4 separate regions of the Homo sapiens genome follow, and regions 1, 3 and 4 are each linked to region 2. The links come from fine-mapping of genetic effects on gene expression. A gene starts in region 2. Each other region holds a variant in brackets. All regions are shown on one strand. Distances are from middle to middle. Region 1 overlaps HERC1 (HECT and RLD domain containing E3 ubiquitin protein ligase family member 1). Region 2 holds the start of HERC1 (HECT and RLD domain containing E3 ubiquitin protein ligase family member 1). Region 3 has its middle 3.1 kb from the start of MIR422A. Region 4 overlaps HERC1 (HECT and RLD domain containing E3 ubiquitin protein ligase family member 1).

Region 1 (4,486 bases), 55 kb before region 2:
AGTTTTGGTTATGGTTGGATATCTCAAAATTAACATATCCAAAACTGAGCTCCTATTCTACCAGTACCACCACCCCACCCAAACCTGTCCCTCCTGTAGACTTCTTTCTCTCAATAAATGGTAACTCCATCCTTCTAGTTCCCTGAGCCAAAAACTTTGGGACTCATAATTGTAGAATGGAACACCCACTTTGGAAAGGTGGCTGGCAGTTTCTCATAAAACGAAACATATATCTAACCCTATGACCCAACAATTCCTCTTCTAAAGATTTATCCAAAAGAAAACATAAGACCATAAAAATACTTCAATCAAAATAGTGGTTGCCTCTAGAGGGTGACAGCATGAACTGACTGTGAGGAGCATGAGGACACTTCTTGAGATAATATTCTATGTCTCAATACTGGTGTGGAATACACAGGTTGCGCATTTGTTAAAACCTAGTGGGCTGGGCATGGTGGCTCACACCCATAATCCTAACATTCAGGGACGCCAAGGCAGGAGGACTGCTTGAGCTCAGGAGTTTGAGACCCGCCTGGACAACACAGTGAGATCTCGTCTCTACATAAGAAAATAAAAATAAAAAAACTCAGTGAAAGTGCACTTGAGATTTTTACATTTCACTGCATGTAAATTTTGCCTCAACAAATACTGAATAATGATATGCAAGCTGAAGTATATTTGAGGGAAGTAAACAGACATCTGTAGTTTATTTTGAAATGCATCAGAAATAAGATGCATTGACATATATTTTTTATATACACACAAAATTTTTAATTACAAAATATTGCAGGGAAGGTGTCTCTCAAGCAAGTCCTCAGAATGTCACTTATAATAGCTGGTAATAGAGAGAAACCTCAATCACTGAAGGGAATTTAATTTTCATGACACAGGCAGATCTTCAAGAAAGCACTCCAATGATAAAGATCCCAGACTACAGTAATTAAAAGGAGTTTCTTATATCTCATTATGCCCTGGTAAATTCTAAATATAAAATCTGATGACACTTGCCTTCACAAGTTTATGATTACTATGCTTAATTCATCTTCCTAAGATACTTGTAAAGTATGCACTTAAGAGGGGGGAAAATCATGATCCTCCATCCCACCCTGACTTCATTTGGTATTAAACACCAGCATTGTGCAGAGGACATAAAAGTGCCTTATTTACCTCCATCCCTTCCCACATAAGCCATATGTAATTTTGCTGTTTTAAATTTGGCCAGTTTGATAGCTGTACAGGGATACGTTGTTACTCTAATTTGTATTTCTCTGATTACTAATAAATCTGAACATCTTATGTTTGTTGGTCATCTGGATATGCTCTTCTGGGAAATATTTATTCATGCATTCTCCTATTTTGTTATCTTGTCAACTTGTAAAAGTTTTTTGTATTTTATCACAGTCTGTCCTCAACATTGCAAATATTTCTTCTAAATCTATCTTTTACATACACACACATCTTTTATTTTATAGCTTCTGTTTTCCATTCTTGGTCAAAAGAGTATCCCTGCCCGACTCTCACACCCAGATTCCACATGAATTCTAGATTATATAGGTAATCACCTATACAAAACCACCTTGATATTCTTGAGAGATTTTTTTTAAAAACCTGAGTCTTTAGTCCATCTGGAATTAAAATAAATTCTACATTCATCTGGAAGTTTAATACACTCTATATAGGACAAGCTGAGTCCAATTTTATTGTTTCCAGGTAGAAGGCTAGTTATACCAACACCATTTATTAAGTAATCCAGGACTTCTACATAGTTGAAGACAATGGCAGCTGCATAGCTATCTGCCCAAAATTTAAGAAAAACAAGAAGGAAAAATTAAATTCTATACCAAACCACACCTGTAGCATAACTTGAAGATACAGAATGCCAAAATTGCAAATAATTGTAAATAAAAAAGAGAAAAAGTCAACCAATCCAGGGTACATG[C/A]TTTCACCTCCATCCAGCCATAAGGCTTTGTGGCAAGCAAAGGCAGACTAAGAAAAACTGCAGAAAAGACAGAGGAGAAAGGCTAGTGAAGGGGGCTAAAAATGATTTGGAGTGACTCCCAGAAAGATTAAATCCACACCGTATCTGAAAACACTGGAAAAGTATCTGGGCAGATCAGAGCACAGACTACAGGGAAGAGATTTTAAAGTACATTTAATTTAAAGCAGAAGGCACGGTTTAAGACAGCAGGTGCAATTTAAAAAGACAAGTGTTAAATAAGCATTTGTTGAAACGCAGAGGAAAGAAAAAGCAAAAAGGAAGAGAGAAGCATGCTTTAACAACTGAGTGGTGAAGGGTAAAAGAAGAAAAAGGGGAAATATTTAGTGTCCTGCAAGGCAAAATAGACCCATAAAATTGAAGACAGAACAACCCTTTCCTCAAGTAAAACAAACAAAATTTCTGCTATTGTATTTGGACTTTGCTATATTGACTGAAGAGAATGCAATTAAATTAAGAATATTATAAAATACTCGATACCACAAAAACGAACATGAGAAAACTCAAGTGCATACAGAGCTATTGCAGAAAACAAAACAAAATTAAATTTTACATTTATCAATTGAGGGAAATTCCCTGATGACGACAAAGCAAAGTGTAAGTTAACAATCCAAACAAAATTAAATAAACTGAAACATATGATGATATGAAAAATCCTGAATCAAAAATTCAAAAACTGAAAGCAGAAATAGACAAAAAGAAAGAAAAAGAAGAAAAGGAAAGGAAGAAAGAAAGGGAAAGAGGTAATTGAACTCAGGAAAGAAATATGAAGAAAAAGGCAAAATTATCTCAGCAATGAAGAATGAATTATAAAAGTGTTCAAGGAAGAGTAGACTCAATGACATAAAGAAAAATGAAAAGGGTGAGAGAAATAATTAGAAAAAGATAAGAAAAAAGAATAATATTCATATTATTGGATTACGTGAGGAAGAAAAATACAAAACAAACAAAAACAGAGCTGGTTTTATAGCTACAATGCAAGAAAACTTTCTAAAATAGAAAAAATATCTGAATCAATATACAAGGTACTTGAGAAAATTAACCCAGACAATCAACTCCAAGAAATAGCCTAGAAAAACTATTATATTTCAAAGACAAAGATAAAATCCTAAAGACCTCCAAGCAAAGAGATGAAATTACTTTAAAAAGCAAAAGAATTAGCCAGGCATTATTTTAAAACAAAATAGCACAGCCACAGCTTTTATAAAGCAAAAACTACAGGAGATGCAAGGAAACATAAATAGAAACACTAATAACGTGAGACATGAATATACCACTCTTAGTACAAGATGGATCAAGTGAACAAAAATAAGAAAACAGAAGATCTAAACAACAAAATAACTCACTTTTCCACTAACAGGATCTATTTCTGGATTCTCTATTCTGGTCCACTTGTCTATTCTTACAACAGTGACTTGATTACAATAGGCTTATAAATGTATAAATGTTCTGATGACTGGTAAGGCAAGTCCCAAAAGTTTAAGATGATATTATTCAGGCCAGGCACGGTGGCTCACGCCTGTAATCCCAGCACTTTTGGAGGTCGAGGTGGGAGGATCACGAGGTCAAGAGATGGAGACCATCCTTGCCAACATGGTGAAACCCCGTCTTTAATAAAAATACAAAAATTAGCCAGTAGTGGTGGTGCGCGCCTGTAGTCCCAGCTACTTGGGAGGCAGAGGCAGGAGAATCGCTCGAACCCGGGAGGTGGAGGTTGCAGTGAGCCGAGATCACAAGACTGCACTCCAGCCTGGCGACAGAGGGAGACTCCATCTCAAAAAAAAAAAAAAAAAAAAGATTATTTTATTCAATTATATGCCATCCCTTCCAACACACTATTGAGGTTCCAATCTGAATTGCATTAGATTTATGTACTTTCAGAAAATAGACATTTTTATGAAATTTGTTCATCCAAGGACAAAGTATGCATTTCTATTTGCTCCTATCCTATTTTAGATTTTCTTCATATAAATCCTGTGCTTTTCTGTTGATTCTTAAGTATTTTTGATTTTGTGATTACTATGAATGGAATTTCCTCATTTCCATTTCTGGTTAATTACTGCTGTCTAGTCATCTGGGTAAATCCATATATTTTCCAAAATTATACAAAGACAGAACAGGAAATGAATCAAAGAAACAGAGGCCATCTAACAACAGGAAATAAAGAAAGAAAACAAGCAAGTATTAAAAAGGTAAAACAGAAGGCCGGGCGCGGTGGCTCATACCTGTAATCCCAGTACTTTGGGAGGCCGAGGTGGGCGGATCACGAGGTCAGGAGATTGAGACCATCCTGGCTAACACGGTGAAACCCCATTTCTACTAAAAATACAAAAAAATTAGCTGGGCGTGGTGGTGGGCACCTGTAGTCCCAGCTACTCGGGAGGCTGAGGCAGGAGAATGGTGTGAACCCGGGAGGCGGAGGTTACGGTGAGCCAAGATCGTGCCACTGCACTCCAGCCTGGGCAACACAATGAGACTCCGTTTCAAAAA
Region 2 (4,486 bases):
TTTTAAAAATAGCTTCAACAGATTATAGTAAGTTTGTTACTTGCTATTATATAGTTATCCAACTATAACATTCAAGTTTTGTTTCACAAGTTTCTTTTTATCCTAACACAACCTTCTCACTCTCCAAGCCACGATGTCATCATTATCATCATTTTAAGATCTGAAAATCTGAATTTTAAAAATTTTAAAAGGTCAGCTCCTTCAATATACCCAGCCCCCTTTTTTTTCTATTTCAAATATTAGGGAGTATTCAGTATGACTTTTTTGGGGGAAAACATGCTTGGAACGTTGGAATTGTTATTACTATTTATTATTTGCACCCTCTACTAACCCAATCCAGTCCAATCACCAACACATTCTCCAAAATTTCTTTAAATTGAGATTTTCAAGAGATGTTTATATTAATAAGCAGATTAAGTGACGCATTTACATTTGCTTTCTCTTCCATGCAACATCAGGGTGCCTGCATTGGAAATGGAATACATGACCAGCAAATGAATGGATGTGTCACATGCAAACAGCATGACTGGAAATTTAAGAAGCAAAATGATAAGAACCTTAGGGAACGCAAAATTCATAAAAGTTTAGAATTACAAGAGGCCTTAATAGGCCATTTAATCCATTCCAATAACAACAACCCCAGATGACAATCTATCCTATTTTTAAAAGGCTCCAGATTTCCAACCTCCCTAGATATCTCATTCTGCCATACAACCTTGTCATGTGATTTGGGGGAAATATTATGACTGTTCTTTGCCCTTCCTAATGCTATCTTTTCTCAAATAATATAGCAATACATCTTAACTCACTTCCAAGATATATAAATGTGTATAGGTGCAGAATACGTGTGTGTGTGTGTGTGTCTCTATACATATATACGTACATTTATGCATAAGACAGGCACCTAGGACATTCAATTTTGCTTGTATAAACGCAGGCTATGGAAACACATATATCAAAGAGACATACTCATCCCACACTAATCACAACAGGCACTATGAAACAATGTCACAGAACAATTTTGGTCTAAAAATATCCAGTAGAAATCAATTTCATAAAACCTGAGGTAAATAGGTTTCTTCCCACTATGAATAATCATAGTTTCTTTCCCTTCTACAAATACTGCCCCATTTTGAGCAACCACCACTAACAGAATTGTAAAAATATAATATATACATAGGTACTAGACCCAAACAGACAATGTTTTAACGTTTGATTTTTCAAACCACTTAGCTAACAATCATTTTGGAAAAGGGCCCAGTGAAAAAGATAGTGATGGCAGAGTTCAGCCAGTGATAATGAACTAGCAGCCAGTTTTAATCAAGCAGGCCAGAGAACTGATTCAAATAAAATAAATCATTTTTGGAACAAATATAGAATGAGGAAGTCCCAAGCAAGGATAAAAAAAAATGTGTCTGTTAGGAAATACAATAAAATGTTAACCATGAAATGCCACCTCTGGAGATGGAATTACAAAGATGGGTTAGTTTGTTCAGATTTGTTATTCCCATCATTTAATTATCTCTATATTCTAAGTATTATAGACATTTCTTAAACTAAGACAAATCTGTCCCTGTGTTTCACAGCTCTCTAAGATAACATGTCTTTTACATAACCTCCTGGGAGAGGTGGTACAAGCTCCTGTCCTCCTCGTGTCTCCCAGTAACCTGCCACCCATCACAGAACAGATTTCACCATGTTCCCCGGGGTAGCTCCTGTCATCACCATCATCATCCTCATCTCACGCTTAAGACTAAACAATGCGCCCCGCCTCGCCTCCCGGTTGCAAAGGCTTTATAATTTGTTGTTTTATTGGGGCGGGAGATTTGGAGAAAGGTTTAGCAGATGATGAGCTGCCCTCACCCAAAGGCAGAGGAGAGGAGGAAGACACGTCGTCCCAGCCTCCACCCCGCTAAAGGCGGCCGGCGCCTGGGGACACCGGGGTCGCGGCACTCCCCGGACCCTGAGAGGGAGTCGGCCGCCGCCCGCGGACCGAGCCCCAGCCGGGGCAGAGGAGCTGGTCAGCAGATAAAGGAATGAAGCAGAAAGAGACGCGACCACAGCGGGGCCGGGGCACAGACGTTGTAAGCCGCTGGAGGGGCGGGTCTCTCGGCCCTCTCCGCGGGCGCCTCGGCTTCTACGCTGCTCCGAGGCGCCCGGGCGGCAGGAGGCCTCTAGAGCCGGGGACCCGGGGGATCCGCGGCGCGCCAGGAGGGCTCCCCCAGCTCGCCTGCCGCCCACCCGGGACCCCAGCAGCCCCGCTCGGCTGCAGTCCCGAAACGGCCCCGGCCGGCCCTGCGCGGCCGGCAAAGCACACACGCGCGCGCGCACACACACACACACACACACACACACACACACACACAGGACCAGGAGGACGGTAGATGATGCGTTACCGTACGTGGCTCTGGAGCTGGCGGGGTGGGGCGCGGCTCCGGCGACCCGAGCCCGGCTCCGCAGAGGCTGCGGCGGTCGCGTCCTTTATTTTTGCTGCAGCAGCAGCGACTTGTCAAAGGGAAAGACGTAAGAGGCGGCGGCAGCAGCGGCGGCGTCAGGCGAGTCTCACGAGATTTGGGCGGAACTCTCGCGCAGCCGGGAGCCCTCGCCCCGCCCAACAGGCCCAGCGCGGGAGGTGAAAGGGGAACCGAGAGGAAGGCGGCTGAGGTGGAGTTGGGGGTTGAGCGAAAAGGGGAAAGGGATTTGGGAGCGAGGGGAGCCAAGCTAGGTGCTGGGGACACTTTGCTACCGCGCGGCCCTCACCCTTCAGCCGTCGCGGAATCCGGGCAGCCCCGACCGCCTGCGGGGACCTGACTCCACAGATGAAGCACAATTGGGGGCGTTTCACAAAGGGTGGTGAGGAGTGGGGGGCCATGCAGTGCGCCCCCTTTTCCTCGTGGTGGGCAGGGAAGACCCCGCCGCCAGGCGAAGGGACACGTGTTACGGCCGGCGGCAGGGCCAGGGCCTCACCCCTTTATCTCCGCCTCGCACCCGGCGCCCCACGCTCTTTATCTCTCATCGCAGCGGCCCCGGCCCTCCGGCCGGCTAAGTTCAATCACATAAAAGCGTTTCACTTGACCTACTCTTCCACCTTGTTCATGTCTTTGCGCCTTATGGGACTGCCAGAACCCTGCAGATGCCAGGGCCTGGCTCCTCGGTTTTCTTTTCTGCTTGGGAACACAGTAGTGTCCTTTGGGTGACTTACATCCTTGATCATGACCTCGACCTCCACGTGAAACCCCATGAGGGGAAGGACACAGACTGGCTCAGTCCTCACCATATCTCCAGCGCCTAACATAGGTCCAAGTGGACATTAAATTGTTGAGTGAATACCCCATCTCCATCTTCCTCCTTCTGTACCTGGTTTTACTCCTTTCCAGCCACCTTCATGGTGTCTTTCCTTCCAGATATTCTAACGAGCATCAATTAAACTGACCGATGACTTGGGGACAAAAAATAGAGTTGGCCTCTGCGTTCCAGAAGTTTGCAATCCAATTGGAGGCGTAGGAGAAGCACACAAACATACAAGCCATGAATGTGTCACTAATGTAAGAAATTACGGTATAGACAGACGAGGGAGTGCTTTCCCATGGTTAAATTAGATACATGTTTGTGTGTCACATGAGGCAGTTTAGTCCAAGAGTTAGGAGCCATGTGCTTCACTGTCAGACACTGGTGGGAATTCTGGAATCCCACTTACCCCAGGTGTGTGACCTTGGGCAAGTTGCTTGACCTCTCTGAACCTCAGTTCCTTATGTGTCAATTTATAATGCCAGTTCTTGTTATCACAAGGTTCCTCTGAGGAGTAAAATATATGTAAAGCTCACATACGGCACATATTAAGTACTCATTAAATGATGGGTCTTAGGTGTGTAGCTTTTAAGTTTCTATGTATAAAATGTGTATTTCTGGTAAATGATGTAAGGGAGTAGCTACATGAGGAGTGATGTCATTGTTGCTAGTGCTTTATGATCTGGGTATTGTGTGTGAAGCATACTCAAAAACAACAAGCAAAAGCTCCTCCTTTTAACTTGTTGATGTCATCTACGTCACTCACAAATATGATATTCTGTCTTTCTTGAATTTGTAAAATTGTACTGGTTTTGCCCACTTTTTCTTTTTCTTTTTTTTGAGATGGAGTTTTGCTCTTGTTGCCCAGGCTAGAGTGCAATGGCACCATCTTGGCTCACTGCAACCTCCGCCTCCCAGGTTTAAGCGATTCTCCTGCCTCAGCCTCCCAAGTAGGTGGGATTACAGGTGTGTGCCACCATGCCTGGCTAATTTTTGTATTTTTAGTAGAGATGGGGTTCCACCATATTGGCCAGGCTGGTCTCGAACTCCTGACCTTGTGATCCGACCGCCTTGGCCTCCCAAAGTGCTGGGATTACAGGGGTGAGCCACCGTGCCCAGCCTGGTTTTGCCCATTCTATTTCAAGAAAAGGACTGCTTACTTTAAAGACCAATCAAGAGACTCCCTCTTTTACCATCT
Region 3 (4,486 bases), 34 kb after region 2:
TCCGCCCACCTTGGCCTCCCAATTTGCTGGGATTACAGGCATGAGCAACTGTGCCTGGCTGAATCGTACACCTTAAATGGGTATATTGTATGGTATGTGAATTATAGCTCAGTAAATCTGTTAAAAAACATGAATGGGCATATTAATTTGCTTATTTAATTATTTCCTATAAAGTGTTGTTTATAGGAATCGTGCCAACTTACTGCCCAAGTTAAGTTTTATTTGTTGGTATATATTAACACATATACACACAGTTTACAATTTAATTTTCACCCTAAGTGGTGTACAGTCATTAAAGGGGCCCAGACCTCTGGGCTGCTCCAGGTTAAGAACCTTGCCCATGTCTCCTAGACCCTGAGTCTGATCTTCATCTCAGAAGTTGTCAAACTCCACCTGCAAAGCTCACTCTGGGGTAACCAAGCTCTGGAGAACCCAGGCCTCTGATGCAGACGCTTGAGAGGCTGATAAACAGGAAGGCCAATGGCTCCTTTTACCGATGGGGACACACTGAGCAGTCCTGGGTAAGGGCCCTCCCCATCACTGCGTGCCCAGCAGAAAGGAGGAACACAGGGTGCTCAGTGTTCTTCAGCACCCTCTTCCTAGCTATAACAACCATGGTTTTCACTGGCTGGTTCAACTTTATTGTGGGATAGAAGTCAATGATCAGAGCAGATATAAATAAAGAGCATTAGAAAATAATGAATCAGGAACATTTTTTTTTTTTTAAGATTCCAGTTCTACAAACCTGTTAGGAAAAACATCAGCCCCTACCACTCCCGTTTCCCACTTTCCAGGGAAACCACGTTCAGCTCTTACAGTGTCTTAAAAAAAAAAAAAATCTACTCCTTCCTGCTATTTTTCAGATTGGAAAACAGTTTGTAGAAGTCCTGGATGAGGGTCTCAATTTTGACAATTGCTCTAAGAGAACCTGTAAAGCAATATGAAATCTTGTAGAGCAATAGTAATTAGCTGTGGTAGAGGGTAGTTATAATAATGTAACTATTGCATCCTAACCCCTCTACCACAGCTAATTATTTCATGTTGCTGTACAGATTGCAAATGACTCTCCTCTACAGTATATCTTTTTTTTTTTTTTTTTTTTTTTTTGGTTTTGTTTTTGTTTGAGATGGAGTCTCGCTCTGTCTCCCATGCTGGAATGCAGTGGCGCGATCTCAGCTCACTGCAACCTCCGCCTCACGGGTTCACGCCATTCTCCCGCCTCAGCCTCCTGAGTACAGGCACCCGCCACCATGCCGGGCTAATTTTTTTTTCCTTTTTTTTTTTTTTTGTATTTTTAGTAGAGACGGGGTTTCACCGTGTTAGCCAGGATTGTCTCAATCTCCTGACCTCGTGATCTGCCCGCCTCAGCTTCCCACAGTGTTGGGATTACAGGCGTGAGCCACCGCGCCTGGCCTATATCTTTCTTTTTTTAAAAAAGGTAATTTTTATTGTGTTAAAATATACATAATATAAAATTTATCTTTTTTACTTTTTATTTTTTCTTTGAAACAGGGTCTCACTCTGTCACCCAGGCTGGAGTGCAGTGGCACAATCATAGCTCACTTCAGCCTTGAACTCCTGGATTCAAGCGGTCTTCCTGCCTTAGCCTCCAGAGTAGTTGGGCATTTTAACAATTTTTGACTGTACAATTCTTTGGCATTAAGTATATTCATGTTGTGTAGGCATCACCACCATCCATCTTAAAACTTTTTCACCACCTTAAACTGAAACTCTGTACCCATTAAACAATAACTCCCCATTGCTTCCTCCTCCAGCTCCTGATAATGACTACTCTACTTTCTTTCTCTATGAGTTTGACTCCTCTACGAACCTCATCTACCTGGAATCATACATTTGTCC[T/A]CCTTTTGTGTCTGGCTTCTTTCACTTAACATAGTGTTTTCAAGGATCATCATGTTGAAGCATGTATCAGAATTACATTCCTTCTTCAGGCTAAATGGTATTCCGTTGTGTATGTATCATACTTTGCTTATCCATTCATCCATTAATGGATGCTTGGGTTGTTTCCACTGTTTGGCTCTTGTGAATAACGCTGCTATGAACATGAGGGTAAAAATATCTGTTGAAGTCCCTGCTTTCAATTCATTCATTCATTCATTGAGACAGGATCTTACTTTATCAGTCAGGCTGGAGTGCGTGGTGTGATCACAGCTCACTGCAGCCTCAACCTTCCAGGCTCAAGCCATCCTCCCACGTCAGCCCCCTTAGTAGCCAGGACCACAGGTGCATGCCACCATGCCCAGCTAATTTAATTTTTTTTTTGTAGAGAAGGGGGGGTCTCACTATGTTGCCCAGGCTGGTCTTGAACTCCTGCCTCAAGCAGTCCTCCCTCTTTAGCCTCCCAAAGTTCTAGGATTGCAAGTGTGAGCCACTGAGCCCAGCCTCAATTTTTTGTATACCTAGAAGTGGAATTGCTGGATCTTCTAGTAATTTTATGTTTAATTTTTTGAGGGACCTACTTTGTCTTTCTGACAACAGTTTTATGACCAAGGTGAGGCAGATACTAAGACAACTGTTCTCATAAACCAGACAGGACACTTGGTGGCTGGCCCAGGGTCTCAAAGCTTGTTGGAAAGTAGAGCTGGGACTTGAGCCTGGCTCTTCTGGCTTTAAGTCCACCTTCTTTCTCGCTACCATGCTGTCCTCCCTATTATATTGGCCTTCTTAAGCCTATAGTCCCCAACCAGAGGTCTCAGATAGATGTTCCCATTCCTCCAGAGCATGTAGAGGAAGCTACATTTATGCAGCCACCCCCCTTTGTTTGCAATCATCATTAGCATCTATCAATGGCACATGCCTGGTCTATTATAGGTCTTGAATTAGAGCCCACCTCACCTCCGGTTAGACTAACTCATTGGATGAAGAAGTCTCATTGACACATTGGGAAAAAGGGTGTGCCTTTGCAATGATTCATGTCTATCTTATATGAATGCTTAATCCCTCAGGGGCTGTTCTTTGATCCAAATTTTGTTCCCCCTCTATTCTGGACCAACTGCTCCACACATAACTCATGGCATTGAAATAACAATTTTAAAGTAGCTGCCACATTTCAGGAATGGAGGGCTTTGCACATGTTAGCTCATTTACTCCCCTCACCCTGAGAAACAGAAAGCATCTTTCTGTTTTGCAGATAAAGAAACATAGGCCAGAGAGATCAAGCCACTTGCCTGAGAGATGGCCCAAGATTTTCTGGGTGCCAACATCAGTGCCTCTATTTCTCCACCTCACAACACCTCCTTCCCAAGGATATCTCCCACTATGTAAGACTTTGTAATCTAAAGCTTATGCTCTTAACGGGAACAGAGGGTTTTTTGAGTTGATGGGTTTTTTTTCTTTTTTCCTGTCTGGAGTTCAGACTTGACTTCTAATTGGTAGGGTTTTGTCCTCACTTCTTTGGACCCTCTCCTACAAGACCCTCTCCTACAAGACCACCCACCAGTCTGGGTCCTAATTGTTTGTGACTCTTTTTCAGGGTGGGAGCAGGGTGGTTATGGAATGACCATGGGTCCCGGCATGTAATAAGTGGCCATGACCTCTAGGTCTCTGGGCTAACACCAAGTGTCCCTGTTTAGCCAGTTCTCATTGAGATGTATTGAATGAATAAATAAGCTCATGAAAAAAAAATCAACCTAGACGATATTCTTCTCATCAAGAATAATAATACAAAATCAACCTAGACAATATTCTTCTCATCAAGAATAAAAATAAAATAAACCTAGACAATATTCTTCTCATCAAACAAAAACAAACAAACAAACAAAAAACTCATAATTATCCCCAGTGTTCTCTGCTTCAAAATAATGTGGAGGTACTCAGGAGGCTGAGGTGGGAGGATTCCCTCAGGCCAGGAGTTTGAGACCAGCCTGGGCAACACAGCAAGACCCCATCTTTAAAAAATTTTTTTTTAATTATCCAGGTGTGGTGGTATGTGCCTATAGTCCCAGCTACTTGAGAGGCTGGTGTGGGAGGGTGATTTGAACCCAGGAGTTTGAGGCTGCAGTGAGGTATAATCTCACCACTGCACTCCAGCCTGGATGACAGAGCAAGACCTTGTCTCTAAAACACACACACACACACACACACAAACACACATAATAGTGAGGAGGACTTGAATGCTATGAGAAGTGGGGAGCTTAGGAGGAGAGAGGAGGCCAATTTGCTATGATGAAAAGTTCAGTGCCCTAAGTTGAAATCCTAATTCCAGTCGCTTACTGTGTGGCCCTGGGCACATCACTTAACCTCTCTGAGTCATATTTTTCTCATTTTTGAAAAGGGGATAATAATTCTTGCCTCGCTGAGATGGTTGTGAGGATTAAATAAAATGAGGGGTGTGAAGGTGAGAGCACAGTCTCCAGCACACAGGAGAAATGAGGAAGCAGAGAGAATACTGGATGGATGAATGACCTAGCAAACAGTACAATATAGAATCTGTTTAAAGAAGTGAGCTTAAAAAATCCTCATGTGATGT
Region 4 (4,486 bases), 47 kb before region 2:
ATTCAAAAATATACACATAATTATAGACCACAGTTCTAGCCAGAAAGTAGTGAAACCAAAAAGAATTCACAAAACAACTAAAATGGAGCAATCTCCAAGATACACTGTTAAAAAAGAAAAATATGTAAAGTATTTGTGTATACTGTAATAGTTCATATACAGTAACATAACTATATTAAAAAGGGTTTAATAATAAATGCTGAAAACATTTTTTTAAAACCTAGGAACACTAGTTGCCTCTGGGAGAAGGAGAATTGGGTTACTGGGAGCTGGGGTAGGAAAGATATTTGCTCTTCACTGCATAAATTTGAATTTCTTATATATGCATGTATTATCATGCAAATTTTTTTTTTTTTCCTTTTTGAGACAGAGTCTCACTCTGTCACCCAGGCTGGAGTGCAGTGGCGCAATCTCGGCTCACTGCAACCTCCGCCTCCCAGGTTCAAGCGACTCTCCTGCCTCAGCCTCCCAAGTAACTGGGACTATAGGTGGCTGCCACCGCATCCAGCTAATTTTTTTTGTATTTTCAGTACAGTTGGGGTTTCACTGTGTTGGCCAGGATGGGCTCGCTTTCCTGACCTCAGGTGATCAGCCCACCTCGGCCTCCCAAAGTGCTGGGATTACAGGCGTGAGCCTCTGCCCCTGGCCTATCAGTGCAAATTTTCAAAAAGCATTTTTAAAGAAATCCAAAACAAGGCAAAACCTAAATTTTTGGAAACTAAGTTTCTCAGACAAAGAGAGGAAGGGGAAAGGAGTTACAAATTATCTAGAAAGTTATATAAAAGAAACATATATCAAAATCAAGGGAATGTAGTCAAAGTTGACTCAAATAAATATATAAAGACTCAAATGCTCCATTTCTAAGTAAGAATTAACTGAAAGCCAGGTGTGGTGGCTCACTCCTATAATCCCAACATTTTAAGAGGCCAAGGTGGGAGGAAGCTTTAGGCCAGGAGTTCAAGACCAGCCTGAGCAACATAGCAAGACATTACCTTGACAAAATGTTTAAAAATTATCTGGGCATGGTGGTACACGACTGTGGTCCCAGCAACTTAGGCTTGGGTGGGAGGATCGCTTGAGCTCAGAAGTTCAAAGCTGTGAGCTATAAGTGCACCACTGCACTCCAGCCTGGGCAATAAGGTGAGACAAAGTCTCTTAAAAAAATTAAATATATTAATAATTCAATTCAAAATTAGAAAAACAAAATAAACTTTAAGAATATTAGGCTGGGCACGCTGGCTAACACCTGTAATCCCAAGGCTTTGGGAGGCCAAGGTGGGCGGATCACTTGAGCTCAGGAGTTCAAGACCAGCCTGCACAACATGGAGAAACCCCATCTCTACAAAAAATACAAAAAATTAGCCAGGAATGGTGGCGCATGATGTGGTCCCAGCTACTCAGCAGGATGAGGTGGGATGATCCCTTGCGCTCAGGAGGTCAAGGCTGCAGTGAGTCAAGATCATGCTACTACACTGCAGCCTGGTCAACAGAGACCCTGTCTCTAAATAAAGAAGGAAAGAAGGAAGGAAAAGGGGAAGGGGAAGGGAAGGGAAATTGGTAAATGAGAAAAATTCAAAAACAACAGGATTGATATCTCAGAGAGATTATTCTTCTTTTTCTTTTTTAGAGACAGAGGTCTCACCGTGTTGTCCAGGCTGGTCTCAAACTCCTGGACTCAGGCAATCTTCCCACTTGGGCCTCCCAAAGTGCTGGGATTACAGGTGTGAGCCACCATGCCCAACCCAAGAGATAATTCTTTAGTGGAAAAAAATGAAAACAATCAGCTAACAAAATTAAGAAAAAAAAGACAAAACATAAGGTACTCAATATTATAAATAAGAATGGAAAGACAAGCTAGATGCACTGCAGTGTGCCTGTAGTCCCAGCTACTTAGCAGGTTAAAGTGGGAGGACTGCTGGAGGCCAGGAGTTCGAGGCTGTAGTATGCTATGATTG[T/A]GCCTGAGAATAGCCACTACACGCCAGGCTAGACAACACAGCAAGATCATGTTTCTATTAAAAAAAAAAAAAAAAAAGAAGAAGAAGAAGAATCGAAAGACAGCTGTGAAGAGCAGTTTGCTGGTGGTATCTCAAAAAGTTAAAAACAGAGTTTCCTTATGGCCCAACAATTCGACTCCTAGATCTATACCCAAGTGAACTGAAAACACATGTTCATATGAAAACTTGTACACAAACATTCACTGGAGCATTACTCGTAATAGCCAAAAAGTGGAAACAACACAAATGACCATCAAGATATGAATGAATAAACAAAATGTCATATTATCTACACAGTGGAATATTATTCAGCCATAAATAGGAATGAAATACTGATACATGCTATAATTTGAGCCTTGTAAACATTCTGCCAATTGAAAGATGCCAGATATAAAAGGCTATATAATGTATGATTCTATTTATAAGAAATGTACAGTACAGGATGGCCAAATGCTTAGAGATAGAAAGTAGATTAGTAGTTGCCAGAGGCTGGAGAGGAAGGGAAAATGGAGAAACTGGTAAGATTTTACTTTGGAATTATGAAAATGTTTTGGAACTAGAGACGGTAGTTGCACAATACTGTGAAAGTACTAAATGCCACTAAATCGCTCACTTTAAGATGGTTAATTGTACGTGATGTGAACTTCAACTCAATAAATTATTATTTTTTTTTTTTTTATTTTTTGAGACGGAGTTTCACTCTTGTTGCCCAGTCGGTAGTGCAATGGCATGGTCTCACCATGCCCAGCTAATTTTTGCATTTTTAGTAGAGATGGAGTTTCACCATGTTGGCCAGGCTGGTCTTGAAGTCCTGACCTCAAGTGATCTGCCTGCCTCAGCCTCACAAAGTGCTGGGATTACAGGCATGAGCCACCATCCCCAGTCTCAATAAATTATTATTATCATATTATTATTTTTGAGATGGAGTCTCACTCCGTCACCAAGGATGGAGTGCAGTGGTGCAATCTCCGTTCACTGCAACCTCCGCCTCCAGGATTCAAGCAATTCTCCTGCCTCAGCCTCCCGAGTAGGTGGGACTACAGGCATGCACCACCACACCCAGCTAATTTTTGTATTTTTAGTAGAGGCAGGGTTTCACAATGTTGGCTAGGCTGGTCTCAAACGCCTGACCTCAGGTGATCCACCTGCCTCAGCCTCCCAAAGTGCTGGAATTTCAGGCATGAGCCGCCACGGCTGACCAATAAATTATTTAAATTAAAAAAATATATCTGGCAGATAATGCTTCCCCAAAATGAACTGAGGGTATGTTACTGAAAGAAGAGAGAACCAATGGTGGGCAACAAATACTCAAAAAAAGTTCGCTACATCAAGAATGACTTTGATGGGTCAAACTATTATAGAGCCAGACTCGGTGGCACACATCTACAGTCCTAGCTACTTGGGAGGCTAAGGCAGGAGGATCACTTGAGGCCAGGATTTCAAGGCTGTAGTGCACTATGATCACTCCTGGATAATACAGCAAGACTCCATCTCTTTTTAAAAAACTTACTAACCTGGACAATATGGCAAAACCCCGACTCTACAAATAATACAAAAAATTAACCGGGCGTGGTGGTGTATGCCTGTGGTCCCAGCTGGGGAGGCATACTGGGGAGGCCGCCTGAGTCCAGAAGGTCAAGGCTGCAGTGAGCCAAGATTGTGCCACTGTACTCCAGTCTTGGCGACAGGGTGAGACCCTGTCTCAAAAAAAAAAAAAAAAAAAAAAGACAAAACAAAACAAAAAACCTTACAAGCCAGTTTCATCAAATTGAACTCAAAGGAAAGAAAGTTCAAGTGCATTTAAAGAATAGGAAGTAGATCAGAATAGCTACAATACATAAAGACATTTGTATAAAATTGTAGGAAAATGAAAAGCAGTACAGAATGTGAAAAAGACAGTTAACAAACAAATGAATTTGGGTTTCTATTCTATAATCCAGTACAAGTCAGACTGATGATTTGGGGAACAAAAGTGTTATCTGCACCTAACACAGCATCTGATACCTATATGCCCTCAATGAAGGATGCATTTCAAAAAAACCAATTTAACAGTTATTTACTGTAAATTGGAGAATTGGGATAATATAGTTGGGATACTACCGAAATAAATCAGTAATGAGATTTAAAGAAACTATAATCACAACAAAATAAAGCCCTGATTGTTTTAAGGAAGAATTCTATCATGACTTCAACAGACAATTCCTAAGCTACTTTAAATGTTTTAGGGCATAGAGCAAAGAGTCTCAGTTCTTTTTAAGCAGTCAATAAAGTAACAATAGCAAAACTTAATGAAGCACAAAAAGTACAGCTGTAATACTACCACAGTTGTGGATTTCATAATCTATAATTAATAAAAATCTGCAATTAAAAATATTAGCAGCTGGGCACAGTGGCTCATGCCTGCAATCCCAGCACTTTGGGAGGCTGAGGCAGGTGGATCACCTGAGGTCAGGAGTTCGAGACCGGCCTGACCAACGTGGTGAAGCCCCGTC

Evidence for each region. PIP is the estimated chance that this variant, and not a neighbour inherited with it, causes the effect. A credible set is the group of variants that fine-mapping cannot tell apart.
Region 1: its variant is the best candidate, but not a certain one, in a credible set for the expression of HERC1 in whole blood (TOPMed, PIP 0.65).
Region 3: its variant is the best candidate, but not a certain one, in a credible set for the expression of HERC1 in whole blood (TOPMed, PIP 0.78).
Region 4: its variant is the best candidate, but not a certain one, in a credible set for the expression of HERC1 in whole blood (TOPMed, PIP 0.62).

Annotation. Positions count from the first base shown.
Region 1 is chr15:63,776,241-63,780,726 of GRCh38, forward strand. All of the region lies in intron 1 of HERC1 (HECT and RLD domain containing E3 ubiquitin protein ligase family member 1), which reads right to left. Among named protein-coding and RNA genes, the nearest start is that of HERC1, 55 kb to the right of the region's middle. The variant C/A (reference allele first, on the strand shown) is at 1,940.
Region 2 is chr15:63,831,426-63,835,911 of GRCh38, forward strand. It overlaps HERC1 (HECT and RLD domain containing E3 ubiquitin protein ligase family member 1), which reads right to left and starts at 2,523. Exons shown (of 78, transcript NM_003922.4): 1 at 2,402-2,523. RefSeq lists enhancers at 1,679-2,544, 2,545-3,408, 2,582-2,711 and a silencer at 1,912-2,341.
Region 3 is chr15:63,865,673-63,870,158 of GRCh38, forward strand. No RefSeq gene overlaps it. Among named protein-coding and RNA genes, the nearest start is that of MIR422A, 3.1 kb to the right of the region's middle. The variant T/A (reference allele first, on the strand shown) is at 1,861.
Region 4 is chr15:63,784,263-63,788,748 of GRCh38, forward strand. The region is part of intron 1 of HERC1 (HECT and RLD domain containing E3 ubiquitin protein ligase family member 1); the gene reads right to left. Among named protein-coding and RNA genes, the nearest start is that of HERC1, 47 kb to the right of the region's middle. The variant T/A (reference allele first, on the strand shown) is at 1,956.